2 linked regions of the Homo sapiens genome follow. The protein of the gene in region 2 interacts with the protein of the main gene of each other region in a biochemical or structural test. Each region holds a gene or a part of one and is shown on either strand. Other genes may lie near its edges. The genes, in order: GNA11 and RGS14.

Region 1 (9,815 bases), on a different chromosome or scaffold from region 2:
GGTGATGGCTGCACAACCGTGTGGATACACTTAATGCCGCTGAGCTGTGCACTTAGAAATTTATCTGTATTTTACAATTTTTTTTCAAAAGGAAAAAATAACTGAAGGAAGGCTGCAGAGGTCCCACATCCGCAGCTTACAGAAACGGAGGCCCGGAGGGCATGATGTCCCCACAGGTGCCCTGGAAGGTGAGGGGCAGGCTGGCCTGGGACCTGGGCTCCTCCCCGTCTCACTCCCTTGTCCCCAGCCCCCAAACAAGGTGGCATTTCCCAAGCAGGTTGCTCTGGCCTGGTGCTAGTGAAATGAACTTGAAGTGAAGGGTCAAACAAGATGACAGGGGAGGGGCCCCGGGACACCGTGCGGAGGCACCCAGGCGGCCCCACTGAGGTCAGGCAATGCCCTAGGTAACTCCAGGGCTCCTGGGGGCCAGGCCTCTGCACACTTCCCCCCAGCCCCCTTTGAAGGACAACAGGAAATAAACCAGAAGGGGGCCGCCAGCATTTAGGAACAAAATTTATTCCAATTTAAAACAGAGTTCATTTCAGGAGAAAGATATGAAAAGTCGACTTCCATCGGTGTCTGGATTAAGGGTCAGGGCCGGTGGCTGTGGGAGGTGACACTGAGCCGCTCCTCAGCCCCTCCTCCCATCCCCAACGCGCACAACACATGCATTTCAAATGGTAAAAGGCTTAAAAACAGCTTGTATAGAATATTCTTTTTTAAATAGATTAAGGTTGAAATTGTCTGAAATCAGGACTGTGTAATATACAAGTATCACTGGGTCCCGTCCGCCAGGCCGGCCACAGGATCTGCTGCCACCACTGGGGGACATTGGCACGGGGATGCCTCCCTGGGGGAGCCGGGGGACCCAGGGCATGGGTTTGCAGTGGCCGGGGGCTGCTGCCGCCCGGGCGTAACATGGTCGGAGAAGGTGGTCGGCACTCACGAGAAATCGTTGGCAGGTGAGATTCACCAAGGTAAAAACACACACCCCACATGCCCACGTGGCCCCACACGTGGCAAGGGTGGGGGTTGGCTGTCCTTGCCCCTGGGTGCCACTGGCACGAGAACCACTGCCTGGGACTCTCCTGGGGCAGGCACCCCTGCCCTGGGCCTGCAACACCTACCTCTGCTTTTTTGGGGGGCAGGGGATCAGGCACTCAGACCCAGAGGATCCAGGCCACGACGTTTTGGCGGTCCCAGCCCGGCTCTGGGATGCTTGGCACGCCCCCTCCCTGGGAAGGCCTAATACTTAGCCCCGCAGCGCCCCGGCCTGCGTGCTGGGCGACTCCACCCTCAGGCCACGGCCAGGTCACCTTGTGCAATCTAGGCCCTCAGAGATGCCACAAGCACAGGCCCCCCAGAGGGCTCCGCTGCTGGAAAAGGTTGTAGCGGCCCTGCCAGGGGTGGCCCCATCTGCTCCCCCAGGGCACCGCCGGGCCCCAGCACTCGCCATGGGGGGCTTCTGGCACCAACCCTCTTAGGTAGACACCTGGCACAAAAAAAGGACGCTTCCGGGTGAGACAGAAGTGGTGTGGGGAAGCCGGGGGGGGGGTATCCCGCCAGCCCCGTCTCCCCATGGGGCTGATCACCAGAAATGTAGCTGCCCTGACCTGGTCTCCCCTGACCCTTCCACGGGGCTCCCCGCTCTTCTGCCCCCAGAAGCCAGCAGACAGCCCTGCGGACGAGGAGGCCAGGGCAGGCCTGACAGTGGCGGGCAGGCAGGCGGGAACTGCTGGTTGGAGTGGTCGTATTTTGGGGCTGTTTCTTTTGTCATCTGTCGAGGCCAGAAGCAGCCGTGCAGGGTCCCGGTGTGGCGGCGGGCGAAGGCAGCACAGGCGATCCATCCCTGGGACAGCTGTGCGAAGCCCGGAACCACAGGGCGCTGTAGTGTTCAGTCAACAGCAGACGAAAAAGCCACCTCCCCAAACACAGTCCCCTCGTTCCCCACCTTCCGAGTCTCTCGGGGAGAACCAGTCTCGGTGCCTCAGTGCCTCAAGGGGCCCCGGGAGGCGGCCCCCGGGGCTGTGGCTCAGTGCGGCGTGGCCTGGCGGGCTCCCCCTCGGGCCGTGGTCGTGGCCAGCCAGGCCTGGAAGCTGCCCAGGCCGGTGCCTGCCACCACCTTCCACGCGCCCCTGGCCAAAGTGCGAGTGCTGGCTTCCCGCTCCCCGGGGGCGGCGCTCGGGGGCGGGCGCAAGTGCTTGGGACAAGGCCACGCACAGAGCTGCCGGCCACGTCCCTCTCTCTGCCTCTCGGGTACACACCTGAGAATATTCTGTAAAAGTCCCCACCCACCCTCGCTGTTTCCAAATTGGTGACATCACAAAGCGGAACAAAACAGAAACGCCCCCATCCAAGTGGCCTTTCTCCCAGTGTCACCGGGGGACCATCCCTCCAGCCGCCCAGCCCACGTGGGCTCCGGTGGGGTGCGCTCTAGCCAGGGCAGGGTGGCCGTGCAGCCCTCTGGAGTCCCCGGGCAGCCCCAAGCAGCCAGTGTTGGCCCCGGAGGCACAGCCCAGAGAAGCCCCCGTGGCTCCAGCCCGGGGACCCTTCCCAGCCTCTGCAGAGGGACGGGGAACCCGGCCATGAGAGAGGGCCCAGGGTGTTTCTTCAACCTGTGAGTCAGGCGTTCTTTTTCCTCAAAAAAATAAAATAAAATAAAAGGTTAGGCACTTCCCAGGGTGGGCGACCGAGGGAGCCCCCCACCCCCTCTTCAGGAGTCCAGTGGGCAAAGCACAGCGTTGATGGGTGAAGAGGCGAGGCGCGCTGGGCGTCAATAACTTAAAAAAGGGGAAAAACGTCCGTCTCCGAGTCTCCACGCCTTTTGTGATGAAGAAAAGAAGCGGGCAGGAGAAAGAAAAAGCACGTGGGGTTGGAAGGACAGCCACGGGGGGCTGCGGTGTGGGGGCGCGTGACTGGCTGCAGGGCGGGGCCCCATGCTGGCTGGCGGGGGCTCTGTGAGGCCCAGAGTCACTGGGGGCACGGGGCGCTTGTGTGTTTTATGTTTCGTTGCTTTTTTTCTTTCTTTCTTTTTTTTTTTTTTTTAGAAAAAAGCGAGCCATAAGTCAAGGCCAGAAAAAGGCTGCCTTTGCCGTTGACAAAAGGTGAGAAGGTGCGCGAAGTGTACGGAGGGAGAGATGTACATCCCCTGATAACTGTGAAATAAAAACCATTTGTTAAAAATATGAAAAAAAAAAATCTCCTCCCGCGGGCAGAGGCCCCGGCCCGGACTCGGCAGCGCCACCCGCCCGGCAGCCGCAGGCTCCGTGGAAGGAAGGTCCTGCCCCGTGTCTCCATCCCGTCTCCCTGGGCCTGGGCGCTCAGACCAGGTTGTACTCCTTGAGGTTGAGCTGCAGGATGGTGTCCTTCACGGCCGCGAACACGAAGCGGATGTTCTCCGTGTCGGTGGCACACGTGAAGTGTGAGTAGATGATCTTGTCGCTGTCGGGGTTCAGGTCCACGAACATCTTCAGGATGAACTCCCGCGCCGCCTGGGCGTCCCGCTGGGGACCTGGGGGAGGGCAGAGGGTGAGGCTGTGCCCCAGCCCGGCCCAGGGCAAGGGACTCGTGGGCCCCTTTGTCACTCCCAGGGGATGAGCGAGTAAGGCCCACGGCCCACCCAGCTCGACCCCCAGCCCACTGCATGCCTGACGGGCCGCAGCTCCCCTCCCTCCCCAGGTGAGCTGCGGTGCCAATCCCACTGTAGCCCCAGGGCACTACTGTCACGGCCCAGGCCTCCAACCTGGGGCTCTGCACCCACCGCTGCTCCCTCTGCTCAGCCCTCTGCCGGCCTCTATCCACTCAGCTCCACAGCCACAGCCTTCCAGGGCAGGCCTCTGGCATGGCTGCCCTGCGAAGGCCCAGGGTGAGAGGAGAGGCCCCCAGGGCTGGGCACAGAGCCTACAGAGCAGGAACAGTGGCCCCCACCCACCCACGGTGCCCCTGCTGCAGCCAGGCCTCAGAGACATCCAGGGGCTCCAGCAGGGGCGCTGCTTCCCACCGGCCACCCCTGCCCCTCCACCACCCTGGACAATGCAGGCGACCCGCCCAGTAACTCCTGCCTGCCCCGGTGGAAAGGCCCCTGGGGGTGTTCAAGGGGCTGCTCTGGGGACTGGTGGGACAGGGGTCTATGCCCCAGTCCCTTGGCCTCCCCCCACCAGGGCTCTCTGAGCCCACAGGACAGGCTGCTGGGCAGGGGCCACGTGCGGCTGGAGCAGGTGCAGCGCCCCCCGCCACTCCCCTGCCCAGGGACAGCAGGGCCCTGCGCCTGCAGCCAGCGGCCGAGGCTATACCGTGTGCCAGACCCCTCCCTCTCGCTGCACATCCAGAGGCAGGGCACCCTGAGGGGCCCTCCCGAAGATGACACCCGAGACTCACGGGAGGAGCACAGATCCGGGGTGGAAATGAGGGCGCCAGAGCTGCCCAGGGCCTCACTGTGCCTGGCAGGGACAGCTCTGAGTGGTGACAGCACTAACGGCAGCCACTGACCACACAGACGAGGGCACACAACACCCTCCCCTGGCCGCCATCCCCAGGCCCAGAGAGGGCTGGGCATGTGAAGACCCTCAGTGCTCAGCTGCCCTGACACACCCCGTGGGGCAGGGGCCACGTAGGGAGGGACGGGTCCGAGGGTGGGGGCAGTAGGGCACAGAGGAGGATGCAGGGACTACCACCAAGGTCCCCACGGGGCTGCGCTGGCAGTGTGCGTGAACCCTTCCTGTGAGACCCCTCCCATATGGGATCACCTATACAGGACACCCCCATACGACAACTCCCTCCCGTACAAGACCCACCAATACAAGACTCCCCCTCCCATGGTGCCCTCCTTGTACAAGACTCCTCCCACCCGAGATCCCCCTGCCCGAGACCCCTCCCACCCGAGACCCCTCCTGTATAAGGAGTCCCTGCATTAACAGATCTCCCACGGGTATGAGACACCCGCGTCGGAGAACTCATTCCCGTACAGGCCCCCCTCATACGAGATCTCCCTTCCCTGAGACTCCACTCCCATACATGACACCTCCCATCAGACGCCCTCCCTTAGAGCTCCCGGCCTGTATGAGCCCCTCTCCCATATCAGCCCCCTCCCCCCAGTAAGGCCCTGCCCGCGAGCCCCTCCCCATGCCGCAGCCCGGCGCACCATCGAACTCGGGGAAGTAGTCCACCAGGTGCGAGTACAGGATCTTGTCCTCCAGCAGGTCCTTCTTGTTGAGGAAGAGGATGACGGAGGAGTTCTGGAACCAGGGGTAGGTGATGATGGTCCGGAACAGGGCTTTGCTCTCCTCCATCCGGTTCTGGCGGGAGCGAAGGCAGAGGGAATCAGAGGGGCCCTCCCCACTGCACACAGCCCAAGGGGCAGCTGGGGGGACCCAGGTGAGGGGACCCAGGCTTGGCAGGTGGGGAAGGCCCGGCCCCCAACGCTGCCCCTGCTCAGGGCAGGGCCCACCTCGTTGTCCGACTCCACCAGGACTTGGTCGTATTCGCTGAGGGCGACGAGAAACATGATGGATGTCACGTTCTCAAAGCAGTGGATCCACTTCCTCCGCTCCGACCGCTGGCCCCCCACATCCACCATCCTGAAAGGACACAGCGCCAGGACTCAGCCACCTGGCGCCCCAAGGCCCAATCTGCAATCCCAGGACGGCTCCCACCCAAGCCCCTCCTGCCACACCAGACTGACATCGGCTGGAGCAGGAAGAGCCCCCACTCTTAGAACGGGCAAGGACGCTCTCAGAGAGCGGCCGCACCGCCTCCAGGGGTGACCACCGCAGACCCTTCCCTCACTGGCAAAGGGGCCTGAGACCACTGGGCCCAGGGAAGCGGGCGCTAGTGTGGGGGTGTGAGAACCCAGAGGATTCTGGGCGCCAGCTGCTGCGGGAACCTGCGATGGGTGCCCAGGGACCCTACATCTGGCATCTGGATGTCACCCTGAGCACAGAAGCCTTTCCCCTCACTGGGCCAGGGACACAGATGTTCACCAAGCGTCACTCGCAGGAGTAAACACTGATGCCACAGTTGCTCCCTGCAGGGACCCTCCAGTGACGGCTGCAGAGGGCAGAGTTGCCGGTATCCTCCTGGGGCAGAAGAGCAGGCGCAGCGCCCTGCCCCGCGTGGTGAGCAGCTCAACCTCACACTCTCAGGCCACGCACAGGCGGGAGAAAGAAAATCAGCTCAGACGATGTCTGCGGGCGTGCGTTCCTTACGGGACGTTTGCCTCTTTCTACTTGTGACTTTTCTAAGTTTTCTATAACGAGAAAAGGCACTTTGGTCTCCTTGAAAGAATACAAAGGCAGAAGCGGAGAGTGCCCCTCAGGCCCTGGCCCCAGGCCCCAGGGAAGGCCGGGGTCCCTGCAACTCTGCCGAGGAGAGCGGGGCTGCTTTGGGCATGTGAGTGGTGAAATCCACCTGGTCTGGTCTGCGGGGGAGTCCAGCAGGCACCGGTGGATGACAGATGTGCCAGGTGACTCTAAGGGACAAGAGGGCCCGCACCAGCAGCTGTGGCCAGGCGGGAGGACAGTGGGTGTGCCGACACCAGGCCACAGCCCGTCTGGAGCGCGAGGCCTCTCCTGCACGCCTGCGGCGGCCGGCAGGGCTGGGATCCGGGTCCCCCCGTGTCTTGTCCCCACCTGAGGGAGCAGGAGCCTCTCCTCACGCACTGGGACGATCCCACCGGCCTTCAAGGCCTCCAGCTGCATCCCACAGCACCTGGCCGGCCCTCTGCCAGCGTGTGGTGGACAGAGGCGGCTGGCAGAGAAACAATGGTGGCAGAGGAGTAGGCTCAGGACGGGGGTCTGCACCCGGCACAGAGGGCACAGCCGGGCCGGGCGCGGTGGCTCACGCCTGTAATCCCAGCACTTTGGGAGGCCGAGGCAGGCGGATCACGAGGTCAGGAGGTCGAGACCATCCTGGCTAACATGGTGAAACCACATCTCTACTAAAAAGTACAAAAAATTAGCCAGGCGTGGTGGCGGGCGTCTATAGTCCCAGCTACTCGGGAGGCTGAGGCAGGAGAATGGCGTGAACCCGGGAGGCGGAGCTTGCAGTGAGCCCAGATTGCACAGCTGCACTCCAGCCTGGGCGACAGAGCAAGACTCCGTCTCAAAAAAAAGAAAAGGGCACAGCTGGAGCTGGGAAGGGCCTGGAAGATGGTGGAGAGGGGGTGACACACCCAGCCTGAGCTCAGCTCAGGGAGGGGACAGGACATTTCTGACAGAGGACACAGAGGCCTGCGCTGTTAAGAGGCCAGCGTGGGGCTGTGAGGGGACATTCATGCCACAACCTGGCCTATGCCTGGCTCGCCTCAGCTGTATCCTGGGGTCATGGGCCCCGTGTGAATAAAAAAGAAGAAAAACTTGAATTCTCGTAACAATATACACCATCGCCCATGTCCAGAGAGGACACCGCAGCTTCTGAGGGCCCAGCGCCTGCTCGGGTCCCCGGGAACCATCCCAGAGCTTGGCATTCCTTGGCTTGTGGCCACATTGCTCCATCCCTGCCTCCATCTTCACGCCGCATCCTCCCTGCCTGCGCTGGGAGGCCGAGCTGGGAGGACGGGTGGGGAGAACAGGCAGATGGCAGGGGGTGGCACCCCCAGCCCTGGGGTGGGTCTCAAGGCAGGGCTCTCGAGGAAAACCCCACAGACTTCCCGGAACCCTCACAATGGCCTCGGCAGTGCACCAGCTGGGTGGGGACACCCTGGCAGGGAGGCGTCATTCCCTCATGAGGGCCAGTGCCAGGGCGAGCTTGCACTGCAGGAGAAGGCACCCGCAACCGGAGCCACCGCGAGGCCCTCCAGGACAGAGCCGTCTAGCGCCCCACACGCACGAACACCAGAACCCGGGGACGGCTCTGATCTGGAAACAGGGTCTGTGCGGATGTCACTGGTTAGGATAACGTCACACAGAGGTAGGGTGGCCCTGGCCAAGGACAGGTTATAAGAGAACAGAGGCAAAGGCGCAGGCGGGGAGGACGCTGCATGAGGATGGGGGCAGGGATGAGGCAACCCGGCCACAAGCCAAGGATGCCAAGGATGCCAAGGATGCCAAGGATGCGGCCGCCACTAGGAGCCGAGTGAGGCCTGGGCAGATCCCCTCAGCCTCAGAAGGACCTGGCCCGGCCCACACCTGCATCTCAGCCTTCTGGCCTCCAGCACTGGGCGGGAATAAGGCCTGCGGTGGGAGTCTCACGCCCGACACCAGCAGCCCAGGACAGGCACGCATAAAGCCGGGACCTCAGCGCTGGAGATGTTATATGGGGCCAGGAGACAGGCAGGCAGGGTCCACGTTCCCAGGGACAGCAGAGTCCAGCCAGCTGAGCAGCCTACCAGACACAGGACCCACTGAGGGTCCCCAGGGAGAACCCGGCTCTGCTGGCCGGCCCCCAGCCACAGTGGACCTGGAGCCCCGGAGGCCCAGCAGGATCCGCAGGGGCAGCCCGTGAAGAACAGAATCCACCCCACACCACCCAGCTCCTCCACCCCAGCCTGGAGCCCTCCTCCCCACTCAGTCCCTATGACCCCTCCTCCCCTCAAAGCCTCGGTCCCCACGACCCCTCCTCCCCTCACAGCCTCGGTCCCCATGACCCCTCTTCCCTGACAGCCTCGGCCCCTATGACCCCTCCTCCCCTCACAGCCTCAGTCCCTATGACCCCTCCTCCCCACTCAGTCCCTATGACCCCTCCTCCACTCACAGCCTCGGTCCCCGTGACCCCCCCCCTCCCCTCACAGCCTCGGTCCCTATGACCCCTCCTCCCCTCACAGCCTCGGTCCCCATGAGCCCCCTCCCCTGGCAGCCTCAGTCCCTATGACCCCTCCCGCACCATGCGGCACCCCCTGCTCCGGCCAGCACTCCAGACCCCAGCCCCATGCTGGCTCCAACCAGGCCCCCGGCCCGTCCTGGAGGCCCTGTCAAATGTCCTCCCTGCCAGGTCTCTTCGGCTGCCGGTCTGGATGGATGTGGCCACGCCCCCCACACCCCCACAGCTCCTTCCCTGTGTGGCCCTGGCTCACACATACTTAGAGATAAATCTTATCCCCTGACCTGGTCAAACACACACTGAGGATGAAGACCAATGGGCTTTCTTTTGTTTAATAAGACGAAACAGGGTCTCCCTCTGTCGCCCAGGCTGGAGTCCAGTGGTGCCATCATGGCTCACTTCAGCCTCAACCTCCTGGGCTTGAGCGATCCTCCTGCCTCAGCCTCCTGAGTAGCTGGGACCACAGGTGCACACAACCACGCCCAGCTAATTTTTAAAATTTTTTTTAGATATGAGGTCTGGCTATGTTGCCCAGGGTGGTCTCAAACTCCTGGACTCAGGCGATCCTCCCGCCTTGGCCTCCCAAAGCACTGGGTGCGCAGGCATGAGCCGGCACACCGGGCAAATGAGCCTCTCAGTGCCCCCTCCCCGCCTGCTGTGGCCCGGGCGGTACCGGAAGATGATGTTCTCCAGGTCGAAAGGGTACTCGATGATGCCGGTGGTGGGCACGCGGACCCGCAGCACGTCCTGCTGGGTGGGCAGGTAGCCCAAGGTGGCGATGCGGTCAACGTCGGTCAGGTAGCTGCAACACAGCGGTGGGTGCTCAGGCCGGCTGCCGGGGGTGGGGGGGCAGGACAGGGACACAGCACCCAAACCAGCGGGAGGACGGAAAGCCACCAGGAGGGGGTGGACCGCGCACTGCGCCACCTACGGCAGTGTCTGAAGCAGCCCGGAGGGCTCGGGCCAATGGAGACCCTGGGGTCGGGATACGAGCCTCCCAACCTCTATCCTCTCTGGGGTCTCAGGGGACAGAAATGACCCAGCACAAGAGAAAGTCCCAG
Region 2 (12,963 bases):
GTAGGGGGCGGGGTTTGTCCCAGGGGCGGGGCTAGCACGAGGGGCGGGGCCTGGGGAGCCAGGTAGCTAGAACAGGGCCTGAAGGGAGCGTCAGGACCTGGGACCCAGACTTGGGGGCAGGACACTCACTCGAAGGTGATCCTGTTTTCCAGCCGCACTTCCTGATCCGCCAGCACGGTGCAGTCCTGATCCAGGACCAGGGCCTTCTGTGGATGCCAGGCAGGGTCTAAGAGTCCCTCCCCCAACCCCCAGCCATCCCTGTGGGTCTGAGAACAACTTCACGCCCTCCCATGGCCACCACTGGGCTTCCTAGAGGAAGGGATGGAGGGTGGAAGAGCTGTAGGGGAGCAAATGGGTTAAGGTACCAAGCTGGAGTCCAAGCCCAGGAAAGCCAAGGCCAGGGAGAAAAGTGGCAAGAATGCTGGACATTCTTGGGAAAGGACAGAAATTACGAGAAACGTAGCTGCTGGCATGAAATGATAAGGGGCAGGCCTAGATCCGGGATCTCTGGCCTACTCTTTCTGTGCCAGGACAGGCTCTGCCTCCAGGACAGCTGTCTCGTGTCCCTCAGGTGTGTGAAATCCGACCAGACCAGCTGGAAGCATTTCCTCCCTCACCACCCACCTTTGACCAACCACCCTGGCCTGGTCCCATTTTTGACATTTGTCCACTTCTCTCCATTCCCCGCTACTAAGGACACTTCTTGTTTCCTCATTCAAAAAGGGCCCACCCTCAAAACTGCTGTGAAACCAGAGGATGTGAAGCATCTGGCACAATGCCTGGCACACAGTAGGTACATAAACAGTAACTCTCGTGATGACCACCTTCAGAGGCCCCACTGCCTGCTCCAGCCTGATGTGGGGGTTGGGGGCAGCATCTCCCAGGCAGTAGGCTTATGCTGTGCTGCAGGAGCAGGTGGAGTGTGGGTGAGGAAGTTATATTTAGCATGTATGAAAGCCCATCTGGGCTGCTGGCAGCCGCCCTAGCGGCCTGAGAAGAGTGGGCAAAATGCCTCCCACTACTGCCCTCGCACCCCTGCACTCCAGGCCCCTGAACATGCCCCGCAAGTACCCACCTGCAGGCCTTTGCCTAAGCTGTTCCCTCTGCCTGGAATATCCTCCCCCACAGCTCTGCCCATCCACATCTACTGCTGCTTCTTCCATGAAGCCTTCCGGACACCAGCCAGAAATGCCTACCCTCTCCCAAGAGACCTTCTCTGGAGTTTTCACTCTTCCTCCTCCCTGATCACTCCCTGCTTGGCTTACTTTCAGCCTGTGGGCCAGGAGGACAGCCCCAGATCTAGGTTCCTCTCCCCCACACACCTGGCAAGGCCTTAGGACTTGTCTACTAGGTAAATGAAATCCCGATGGCCCCCTGGAAGGTAGCATTCTTCCTTGAGATTCCCCTGACTGAATGGTTTCCTTTAAAGCCAGTTTTCCCCTAGGTCTTCTTTAAAGTTTAAGCTAGTTTGCACCTAAAGGAAAAAGTTCATTGGTTAGGTGCACTTGGGTGCCCCTAGAGGCTAAGGAGGTGAGGGCACCCCACGGATGGCCATTTCCAGGATGGGTCTGTGGGGATGGGAGTCTGGACTCTGGGAATGATGAGGGGCAAACCCCAGCTCCAACAGTGGTTCTCTCCAGTTTTACCTCCCTAAGGTCACCACAATAGGATGATGGATGAAGGTGGAAACCTGGAAGGACATGAGGTGGGGGGTGGGTGGATGTCTGAGTGAGTGAAAGTTGGTGCTGAGGGTGCTTTGGAGTTGGGTTTAGAACTTGAATTGGGGTTGGAGCCATGACTGAGCAGAGACAGAAATGGAGTTGGGGTCAGGATCAGGAAGGAGGTTAGAGTTGGAGCCAGGTCACGTTCCCACCTGTTCATTGCCCACCAGGTAGACCTTGATGTCAGGTAGAGAGAGGCCTCGTTTCTCACAGATCCCTGCCAGCATGTCTCGGATGGTGAGGCCAGGTCTGGCCAGGGCCAAGGAGGCTGTGCCATCGGGCAGGTACACACAGCAGTACTTCCCTGGCCGGCTTTCACTTTCACCCTCCGTGCTCCCAAGGCTCTTCCGGTGGCTCTGATTCATGGCAGGAGTGGGGGAGATTATGTGTACACATGCAAGGGCATGCACACAGGTACACAGAGATAGGTAAGCTTGCTGGGGCTCAAGCATGCACACGCACTCCCAAGGCAGGCAAAGATACGTCCTCCTGCAGGAACACATGTATGCACACCCAGGCATATGGGCACCTAGAGACGGGTCCACCCGCTGATTCCCACACACGTGCTGTGTATACACACCTGGGTGCTGCACATGTGCACACATTTGCCAACTGAGGATGTGTACCCATGACATATATGGGGACCAATGTAGTGAGACAAGTAAGGAGGCTGAAGGGTTGGCTACGCAGAGCAAGCTGGGAGACGCAGTAAGGACAGCAACTTGGAATGAGGGCCACCACGTAAATGGGCCTGAGTAGTGACTCTAGCCCATAGAGCATCTTGTCTTCCCCAACAGTCGGCTCACCTCAGATTTGCTGCTGACGAAGGCTAGGAAGCCAAGGTCCAGGCTGGCGGAGGAGTTGAGGGAGCCCTGAGACTCTCGGCGCAAGGCGGCGTTTGCAGTCCCGCCCAGCTCTAGTGAAGAGGGAGCGATGAACGCGAACAGCCCCCCGCCCTCACCCATCCTCTGCGGAAGCCTGTTCCCCACTGGTGGGCCTTGTTTGGAGCCATCCTGCAGGGGCCCAGGTGTAAATCCCTGGGAGCGACACCACCGTTGGAGATTTCCAAACGTCTGAGGTCTAGCCCAAGACCCGAACCACCCAGGGGAGTGTGGTGGTCACTGGGACCTGGGTTTCAATTTTCACAGACTTACAGACTGTGGGCCACGTAGGAGGAAGGGGGCACTCCCCAAATTTAACCAAACTCCCGCCTTCCCCACATCTCTGTTGCTCGCTCCTGCCCTCACCCCGGCGGAAGGACTTGCGGAGAGGGCGGCCCCCAGGACCCTCAACGGGTGGCAGCTGCCCCAACTCCTCCACACCCAGCGGCAGCGACTTCCCGGGCTTCAGCTTCGGCTTCTGTGGGTACAGGGGAGGCGCTGGCACCGGGCTGGGCCCCAGCCCGCATGCAGACCGTGGGCACAGACTCGCAGATCTGCACCCGGAGGCGTCCCCTCTTGCACGCGGTCCGCAGGACCCCCTGCCTCGCCCAGTCCCTCGCCCAGTCCCACGCACCTTCCTCGTGGCGTCAGGGCTGCCGAGGCGCGAGGAGCCAGGTTCCCGCAGAGGGCGTCCCTCGGCTTCGGCTAGCAGGCACTCGCGGTACAGCGGGGACTTGACGAAGCGCGCATAGCTGTCGAACTTCATCAAGTTGAAGATCTGCGGGGCGACCCCGGAACAGGTGAGCCGGGGCTGGGGTGGGGGCGCTGGGCTGCCTGCACCCAGGCCGGGTCCTTGGGGCTGGCCCCGCCCCAAACCTAGGGCTGGATTTCCCAAGCCCCGCCCCGACCTCAGTTCCTATACCCACCCCCGGGGTCCAAGCCCGCCCCGAGCTCAGCTAGGCTCCGCCTCTAACTGTCCTTCCCCGTGCCTCTGATACCGCCCTCTGAGCTCCGCCCTGCCTGCCCCGGCATTTGGCTCTGTCTCCGCCTCCAAATTTGCCCCCTCCGCTTTGTAGTTCAGACTCCCCGCCAGGGTCCGACCCCGCCCCTGCTCCTTTTGTCTCCCTTTCAAGGCCAATCCCCCCAGGATCGCCCACCTGAAGCTGCTGTGCCCGAAACATGTCCGGCCGGGGCTCGGCCAGCACCTCCTCGCCAAGCCAGGCCTGACGGTCGATGTTCACTGGGCTCAGCGCCTGGCTGGACAGGAACTCCTGGTAGATGTTGCGGGCCTCCTGAGCTAGCTGAAGGAGGAGGGACAGGAGGAGTTGGTCAGGGAGCGTGGCCCAGTTCCCCTCTCCCCAGCCCTCGGCCCCAGCTCCCCCTTCCCCCACCTGCTGGGTATCGCTGGCCGGGATCTGCTGGAAGCGCTCGCAGGCCTTCCAGAAAGTCACGTTTTCCGCGCTGAACTCCTTCTTCAGGAACTCCTGGGAGGGGAAGGAGGGGGAGGCAGGCAGAGACTCAGAGACACAGAGACCAAACTGGGGGATGTGATCAAAAAGATTGGGACAGAGACAGGGCCAAGAGACCAAGCCAGACAGACAGGGCCAGACAGACAGACGGAGCCAGACCGATCTGAAGACAGGGAGAGAAAATGAGAGGCAGAGACAAGGACAGGGAGAAGGAAGAAAAGTTCCCAGCTGGGAGAAGAGGAAGAGGGTGCTGCAGGAAGGCTAGATGAGGAAGCTGACAGAGGACCCCACTCTGGCCAGCCTGAAGCTCCATCCACGCCCTGCCCTCTCCCGTGTCCCCCCTTCCCTTTCCCTACCCCAGGCTTACAGTGAAGTAAGCCAGGCCCAGCGGGTCCTGCAACAGCCGCTCGAAGGACAGGGCCCAGCTGGCCACAGGCTGCTCCTCGGTTGGGAAGGGGCTGCTGGGACCACTGGGGAGGCTGTGGATGCTGAGAGAGCTGCCGCGGCCCTCGCCCTGGCCCTGGGGCCCCGTCGTGCTGCTCAGCTCTGCAGGGGGATGGACAAGTTGGGGTGAGCCTTGCTGCCTTCCCCAGCCCCTGGCACAACCCACCCTCCCCCATGCATCCACTCTGCAGCCATGTTCCCTGGAAAGATAGCAGGTGGCAGGGGTGTCCCCACCCATCTCCACCTCCCTCCTCCCTCCCACTCAGCCAGTTCTCCACACATTCTGTCACTTACCTCCATCTGACACAGCCAGAACCTATAAGAGACCCAACAGAGAAAGTCAGAAGAGCCCAGTGAGGATTCCCAGGGGACAGTTCTGGGCCCGACTCCCAGGAGCTGGAACTGCGTTCTCCTCCACCTGGGCATCCCCGGCCAGGTTCTACTTGGTCAGGGTTTTCCTCAGTCTGCCCCTGGCTCCCCTTCCATCCTGTGCCAACCACTAAGTACTGGGACTTATGGCAGGTACCTTCCAGCAGCCCCTGGTTCCCTCCTCCCCCAGCCCCTGCTGGGTGAGCCAGGTGTGCATAGCATGGTGGGTAGGAACAGACTTTAGTCTCTGCCACTTACTAGCTGTGTAACTTTGGGCAAGTTAGTTAACTTGTTTGCCTCCATCTGTAATCTGTAAATAGGAGATAATGCCTATTTACAAATGGAGGCAAACCATTTGCTTCCATCTTGATGTAAAGATCAAGTCAGTTTAATATATTCACAGCATTGGCTGGACACGGTGGCTCACGCCTGTAATCCCAGCACTTTGGGAGGCCGAGATGGGTGGATCACCTGAGGTCAGGAGTTCGAGACCAGCCTGGCCAACATGGTGAAACCCAGTCTCTACTAAAAATACAAAAAAAAAAAAAAATTAGCTGGATGTGGTTGTGGATGCCTGTAATCCCAGCTACTCGGGAGGCTGAGGCAGGAGAATCGCTTGAACCCAGGAGGCAGAGGTTGCAGTGAGCTGAGATTGTGGCATTGCCCTCCAGCCCGGGTGACAAGAGCAAAGCTCCGTCTCAATAAAAGAAAATCAAATAAAAATATATCCACAGCATCTAGAACATGGGCCAGCATGTGATATGGGCTGTATAAACATGTGCTGTCTTTGAGGAAGGAGAGGTGTCTCTGCAGCCAGTGATCTTACTATCGCACGTGTTGCCTATTGGGCCCAGGGTCCCATTACCACCGTGGGAGGGCACAAGATGCTGGTCTATAGTACAGAGCAGTGGTTCTCAAACTTCAGTGCAGAGTGGGAGGACCCCACCTCTGGAGATTCAGGTTCAGTAGGTCCAAGATGGGGCCTGAGGCTGTCCATTTCTACCAAGCTCCCAGGCGATGCTGATGCTGCTGGTTCAGGGACTACTCTGTGAGTAGTACTGCTGCAGTAACTAACTCCATCCTTGCCCCCAGTGCACAACTCTGGTTTCTCTGGGAATCCCAATCATTAGTGAAACAGAAAAACTCTCCTCTCAAAATGACTCTTGCGGTGGTTTCTCTTGTTTCTCTTTTTACCTTCCTAGCAGCTCCTCCAGCTTCCCCACTATCTCCCACTCATGCAATGTGGCCTCAACCCCTCTCTGGCTCTGTCCTGGGCACTTTGTCCCATCCACAGATCCACAGCTCCAGACACACATAACCAACTTCCTGGTAACGGCTCCAGCGCCTATCACCCCTGACTTGGGGTTAGAGGGCAGGACAGAGGCTCAGGGTGTGCGCGAGGAGGGCAGGGCCAGGCAGCCCAGCGGAGGGGGGCGAGTCCCCCCTCAAATGTCCCACAAGCCCTCAAGCTCCCAAATGGAAGTCCCAAATGGAAGCTCCCTCTGCCTCCACCAAAACACAGTACCAAACCAGCTTCCCTGCCCCCATCTTTCTTCCCATCACCCGGGCTTCCAACATCAGGGCTTGAGTCATCCCCAGTTCCTACTTCCCGCTTACCTCCTACACTTTCACCATGCCCTGTCACAGAAGTTCCTACCACCAGCCCCTTATTCCCATCCCAACTGGAAACAGGCCTGCAAACATCTCCACCCCGGAAAGCCCCCCAACCCCCACCCTCCTGAATGGAACCTTCCTCTCTGTTTCCTACTCCCACCCTGAGAGTATTCAGGTCACAGGGCGGCCATCTGTGGGCCAGATCCGGTCTGCAGATATGTGGGAAATTACTATTACCTTGGCCCTCTCAGGTTTTATTATGATGATTATTATTTTTATTTAAAGGTATTTTCCACATTTAAAAAGCAAGAGATTTTAAATTCCACTTGCTCCGTGAGACTGTAATGCTCCAGCTCCTTCCCAGCAGGACAACCTTGTCCGGGATTGAGCAGCCACCACCTTCCCCAAAAGGGCTTACACTCCTCTCAGAGGCCTCTGGGGCCAGTTTAATGCATTTATGTTACTTGTGGAGGCAGTGGGAGGCAGGCTCAAATTTGGGAGGTCAAATTTGTGCTGTGTGACTTTGGACGAGGTACTTAACCTCTCTGTGCCTCAGTTTTTTCCTCTCTAAAAATGGAGCAAATAATGGTCCTGACTTCGAAGGATTGGTGCGATTAAATGAGTGAAATATATATAAAGAACTCAGAACACTATCGGGCGTGTAGTAAATGTTCAAGGAACGTTACTATTAATGTCGTTCTTGTGTCAGTGTTGATGCCTGACCCCGCTACACATTCGAGTTTGCCACTCCCGCCATAGAAGGAAAGAGCACAGGTGTTGGGGGCGGGGGGCGTCTCTCAGATCCAGATTCAAACCCCAGCCCTGACTTTTTCCAGTTTTACAACTTCGGGCTCCTCCCTGAGCTTCGCTTCCCATCTGGAGCCCGGGAATAAGAAGTTGCAGTGGAGGGCAGCGAGTTAGTGCAGAGCGCGCTGGGCGGGGCGTCGGGCCCAGCGCGCCCCGCCCCCGTCTCCGGCCCCGCCCCTCCTGGCCCTGCTCTCGTGCTCCCCGCTCTGTCCTCCCCGCAGAGTCAAATCCCCCAACGAAAGTCGGTGCTTCCCACGGCGACAGGAGAAAGTCCCCACTCCGAGGGCGGCAGAGGGCTGCGAGGAGGGACGGGACGAAGCCTTTCCCTGCGCGGCCGCAAGGTTCCTCTGCAGCCTGCACCTACCTGCCCGCGCCCGGGCTCCTCCTCCCCCGGCTGCACCGCCACGGTGTTCCCAGCCTCGGAGACGCAGTCATCGCCCTCCCCCAGATCCCCGAGAATCACCCGGACTCGCCCCCCTCCGCTGGGCTGCTTGGCCCTGCCCTCCTCGCGCACACCCTGAGCCTCTGTCCTGCCCTCTAACCCCGAGTCAGGGGTGATAGGCGCTGGAGCTGGCGCCAGCCAGCACTTCAATTTTGTTTGGCCCTCACAGGTTTATTTTCCACGTTCTGCTTAACTGAATGTCGTTAAGTGGGGCTGCCTGCTAGATCCTCCCCAGGCCCCACCCCTCCCCACGGTGCCAACCCGGGCCCTTTCCCTGCCCCCGGAGGCACGTTGCGGTTGCCAGGTTACGGCTAAAACCCTACCTGGGCCTGACTAATGAACCCCCTTCAGCCTCACCCATTTTCCTCCCCCTCACCTCCACCCTACACTTCACCGAACTTTTCTATTTTCCCCACACCCCTGCTTCCGGCTTTGCCATTGCCAGTGCCTGGGTATCTGCTCCTGCTCTTCGCTTGGAATTGCTCCCCGATCTCTGCCCGTTGACATTAGTCGTCCCCAAACACCAGGCCCCTTGAATGCCCCTTCCCACCACGTGCTTATCCACCCATGTCCCGGCCTCTCTCCCTGCCAGTCTGGTCACCCCTGGAGTGCTGGCCTGGTTGGTGGGAGGGGTCAGATCTGAACTCCCTCCTCAAGAAGCACCGTCTTTGCCTCGTGCTCCCAAGCAGCCATCAGGACCCTGGCCTTGGCACCCCTTCACTAGGGACTCTCAGCCCCTGAATGCCACCTGTAGCTCTCCATCCTGAGCCTCTCTTGCCCTGACAGTTGTTGATAGCATAGCTGGAGCTGAAATTGAGTAGGGACAGAAATCTGGAGATGGGTGGGAGTGGGGGTGGAATCCAATTCCAGCTCTGCTATTCGGGAACAAGTAACTTCTCTGAGCTTCAGTTTTCCCTGGGTAGCATGGGGCTCAGCACTCCCAATTTCCTGAGGCTGCTGTGAAGCTTGAATGAGGCCCCATGAGTGAAAGCACCAGGCATGCCACAATCAGAGCAGCACCCCACAGCGGAGTGAGGTGCAGGTGTGCAGGGGCCCTGCAGGGGCTCTGGCCTGCCCTGGCTGCCACTGCAGGGCCTGGGGAAGTTGTGTTGAGCAGGGCTGGCCTCCCCTGCTTCAGCCTGCTTGAGAAGAAGTGGTGAGTGAATGGAGAAAAAGGGGAAGAAAGGGCAAGGAAGGGTGTGGTGGCCAGTGACACACGGACCCAGGCTTGGACCTCGGCCGGTCATATTTTTTTCTTAGGAATTTGGTCCTGGGGGAGCTGCTGGCACCTGAAAATGCTAAGGTGAGAGTAAGGCCCCAATTTCCTGAGCTTTGACTGTGTGGCAGGCACCCTCTGGCAGCACACATTCATGTCCTCCCTCCATCTTTACGGGTATCTTGTGTGGCAGGTATTATTACCCCCATTTTACAGATGAGGAAACTGAGGCCCAAAGAAGCCATGCAGCTGAGATGTGGCAGAACTGAGATTAGAACTCAAGTTTGCCTGATTCTGGAGCCTGAGGCCTCCCCACCCTCTACCCAAGCTGACTCCCTTTGTGGACCAAGGAAGCTTGGAGGCCCAGGGCCTCAGCCCTTGGGGCACAGGTGGGCAAGTCTAATCTGGCATGACCTGCTCAGGGGCTCCTCTTGAACTGTGCCCTCTAGAGGGATCAGACCTTGAAGGAGGGCCAATTTTCTGAGCATCTTCTATGCTGGGCACCCTCTACCATCCTCTTGAGGATTTCATCCTAGCTTGAGGGGCTGCAAGACCCTGTCTGGAGATGTCCACACAGAATCTGGGTGTCTGGTCCCTTCAACTTGAACCAGCCTGTGGAGATGACCCCTGGCCTTGCCCCTGTATAAGGCCACCCTGAACTCGAGTGCCCTGAGCTGGACGCGAGGGACAAAGAGAGAGCTGCATGGGCTTTGCCTTGCAGGTCTTCCTGCCAGGAGGGGAAGACTAACTAGGCCCTCTGACAGGACAGGACAGGCTAACTGCCCCTCCAGGCTTAACTCTCAGCCTCCCCTAGGGCCCTGTCCCTGTGTTTGCCCACAGCCAGGCCTATGCCGTGCCCTCCCTCCTCCAGCTTGCAGACCCTTTAGGGACCGTCTCCTACAACACGGTGCATGGAGCTAGTGGAGAGTCTTGCTCTGTCGCCAGGCTGGAGTGCAGTAGCACGAACTCGGCTCACTGCAACCTCTGCCTCCCAGGTTCAAGCAATTCTCCTGCCTTAGCCTCCCAAGTAGCTGGGACTACAGGCACATACCACCACGCCCAGCTAATTTTTTGTATCTTTAGTAGAGAAGGGGTTTCACCATATTGGCCAGGATGGTCTCGATCTCTTGGCCTCATGATCTGCCCGCCTCGGCCTCCTAAAGTGCTGGGATTAGAGGCGTGAGCAACTGTGCCTGCCTCCTCTCTCCCTCCTTCCCTCCCTCCCTCCCTTCCTTCCATCTTTTTTTTTTTTTTTTTTTTTTTTAATATAGGATCTTGCTCTTTCACCCAGACTGCAGTGCAGTCTGAGTGTGATCACAGCTCACTGCAGCCTTTACCTCCTGGGGTCAAACGATCCTCCCACCTCAGTTTCCCAGTAGCTGGGACTACAGGTGCATACCACCATGCCCAGCTAATTAAAAAGAAGATGGGTCCTCACTATGTTGCCCAGGCTGGTCTCAAACTCCTGGGCTCAAGCGATCCTCCTGCATTGGCCTTCCAAAGTGCTGGGATTCCAGGCTTGAGCCACTGCCTGGTATTTTCACCTGTGTCTTTTGTGCCTTGCCAGACTAGGGGGCAGGGACTAGGGCTGATGGGCCTGGGTCGGGAGTGTCTAGGATAGGGGCAGTGGCAGCACCAAGCAGGCACTAAGGAGGGGTTGTTGAATGAATGAGTGAATAAGTACATGAACAAATGAAAAGGTAAAGAGGCTGTGTGAAGACATCCCTAGGAAGGGGGCTGGGAGATGTCTCCAAGTGACAGGTTTCCTTGCAACTGCCTGACAAGCTGAATGGCAGAGAGGCAAGGCTGACAACTGAAGCTTCCACAGCAGGGAATGATGGTGGTGAGAGGAGAGGTAGGGGAGGACTGGGGCCAGGCAGTTCTGGGGGTTCAGATGCTGACGCTCTACTCTCTGGCTGACCTCGGCACAGCATTTACTTCTCTGAGCCTCCCTTGGGAGGTAACTCATGGAGGGACCAGACATACCTGTCCCCCAGGCGCCCCTCCATCCACATCCGCACCTCAGATCCCAGTGCCTGTCTGGCCCTCCCTGCCCTAGCTGTGCAGGGCCACGGGAAGCTACTCAGTGACCAGCAGGCAGCCAATCTGTGACCCTCGGGATTCTAAGAGGTGGCACAGAGAGTTTGGAACAGGCCCAGGAAGGGCAAAGATAAACCTGTGTGTGACAGTTCTGAGAGGAGCCGGGGCGTCTGTGGGCTTGATGGAACTGGGGGCAGACCTTGGGGCACCCTCCCTGCTCTAGGTGACTTTTGAGTAGAGAAGTCACAGGCTGACACAGAAGGGGCAGGGGCTGGGTCTGTCTCTGGGCCCCCTCTGCTGCCCTGTAGTTCTAGGCACTGTCCCAGAAGCATCAATCCAGTTGCCCTCCCAGGGTGGGCCTGGGGTTAGCCTCCTTGGCTTCCTGGCCCGGTCGCCTAGGCAAGGACGAGCGAAGTGTCATGCCTGTGACATGGGAATGCAAGGGAGGTGGGTTTTCTTTTTGCACTTTCGTTGTGGGGTCGGTACTGCAGACAGTGAGATGGGGGGCTGAGCTGGCTTTGAAGGGTGGCCTCTCTCCCAGCCGGCCAGCCCGGGGCTGGGCAGGAAAGAGATGCTGGAAGAAGAAGAGGTAGAGGCAGGTTTTGGGAACTAAGGGGCAGGAGTGGTGATGGGGCTGCCTCAGCTTCTTGGTGAGGCAGGAGATCTTTGAATTGGGGCTGAAAATGTAGGGGGCACTGGGCTGACAATTATGCAGCCCCCACAATGGGTCAAAGGCCTCATATGCATTATTTCACTCTATCATCTCAACAAGCCTTGAAATTCATTCCAACCTCCTCATTTTAGGGATGAGGAAACTGAGAGCTGGCGAGGACCCTCCCTCCAGTAAGAGAGAATAGAACCAGGACTGGAACCCAGGTCTCTATAGAGCCACTGGCTTTGGCCCGTGATACTAGGCTGGGGCCTGGTGGTGGGCCAGGACACTGGCCTTCCTGAGGTTGTTAAGAGGGACTCTTCCAAGTGAGGGGGGAACCCTAGGGAGAGAAGGGAGGCCCAGCACAGCTTGCCCCATCTGCTGAATGAATGAGAAGAGCCAGATCCTCTGAGGGCAGCTCTGATCTGGGGCTAAGCAGCCAGGGAGAGGGTTAAGGGGTGGGGCAGCTGCAGCCAGGGGGATCTTAGTGCTCAGCCCTTCCTGGAAGCTCAGGAATAGAACAGGCAGAAGCTGCATCAACCTAGTCTGACCCTGCTGCCCCATCCCGGGCTGCCCAAACAATGCTAGTTCTGGCAGGAAGCCTCTGGAGTAGCTCCGGCTGGAGGACACCGACCCAGCAAGAGCTGCCACTAACATGACCTTGGGCACCTGGAGCAGGGGGTGAGGAGGGGAGGACTCAGGCTGAGCGGGATGTAGGGGCTTGAGCCACTGTGGGGATGGGCAGGGGGCAAGGAGCACATCGAGTGTCCCTGAGACCCTGGGATGCAGCCCCAGATGCAGCAGGTGAGGGAGTGGTGGGGGCTGGACCAGAAGCCTGTGCCCGCTCTGGCCTCACTGCCAGGGTTGTACCAGGCTCCCGGCTGGGCCATCTGGAAGGGTCTAGGGGTGAGAGCACCAGGTCCTACCACCTGCTGCTGTCTGTACCCAACTTCTCTCGCCTGCTGGCAGCCCGTGGGCTCTTGCCTGGCCCTGCCGGGTGTGCCTCCTGGGCTCCACCCTGGGTGTGCCCACCCCCTCCTCGTGGCCCTGGCCCGGAGCCCACACTCACCATGCGCCCGTTGGGGACGCCCAGGTGCTTGGGCTTCCCTGGCATGCCGCTGCCGATCAGGGGTCCCCGCCGCGGGGGCTGCCCACCATGGGGACTGTGGGCAGCGCCGGCCAGAGCTTGCACGGTGGCGGGCAGGCAGTGGAGAGAGCCTGACTCGGCTCCTGCGGGCCCTCACATCCTGAAACACCGCTCACTACCTCTTTTCTCTGCCACAGGAAGTGTCTCTATAGAAACCAAAC

The links.
Region 1: the proteins of RGS14 (region 2) and GNA11 form a complex in vitro, tested with the Homo sapiens proteins (one study listed by BioGRID).

Annotation. Positions count from the first base shown.
Region 1 is NC_000019.10:3,114,685-3,124,499, reverse strand, and holds the end of GNA11 (guanine nucleotide-binding protein subunit alpha-11), read right to left. Parts: intron 9,557-9,815; coding exon 9,428-9,556; intron 5,577-9,427; coding exon 5,447-5,576; intron 5,295-5,446; coding exon 5,141-5,294; intron 3,512-5,140; coding exon 3,321-3,511; 3' UTR 501-3,320; downstream 1-500. UniProt on the Homo sapiens protein: Guanine nucleotide-binding proteins (G proteins) function as transducers downstream of G protein-coupled receptors (GPCRs) in numerous signaling cascades.
Region 2 is NC_000005.10:177,357,831-177,370,793, reverse strand, and holds the start of RGS14 (regulator of G-protein signaling 14), read right to left. Parts: upstream 12,871-12,963; 5' UTR 12,770-12,870; coding exon 12,725-12,769; intron 7,742-12,724; exon of another isoform or gene 7,670-7,741; intron 4,832-7,669; coding exon 4,810-4,831; intron 4,618-4,809; coding exon 4,439-4,617; intron 4,087-4,438; coding exon 3,994-4,086; intron 3,904-3,993; coding exon 3,760-3,903; intron 3,381-3,759; coding exon 3,237-3,380; coding exon of another isoform or gene 3,081-3,236; coding exon 2,969-3,080; intron 2,638-2,968; coding exon 2,528-2,637; intron 2,078-2,527; coding exon 1,874-2,077; intron 207-1,873; coding exon of another isoform or gene 204-206; coding exon 130-203; intron 1-129.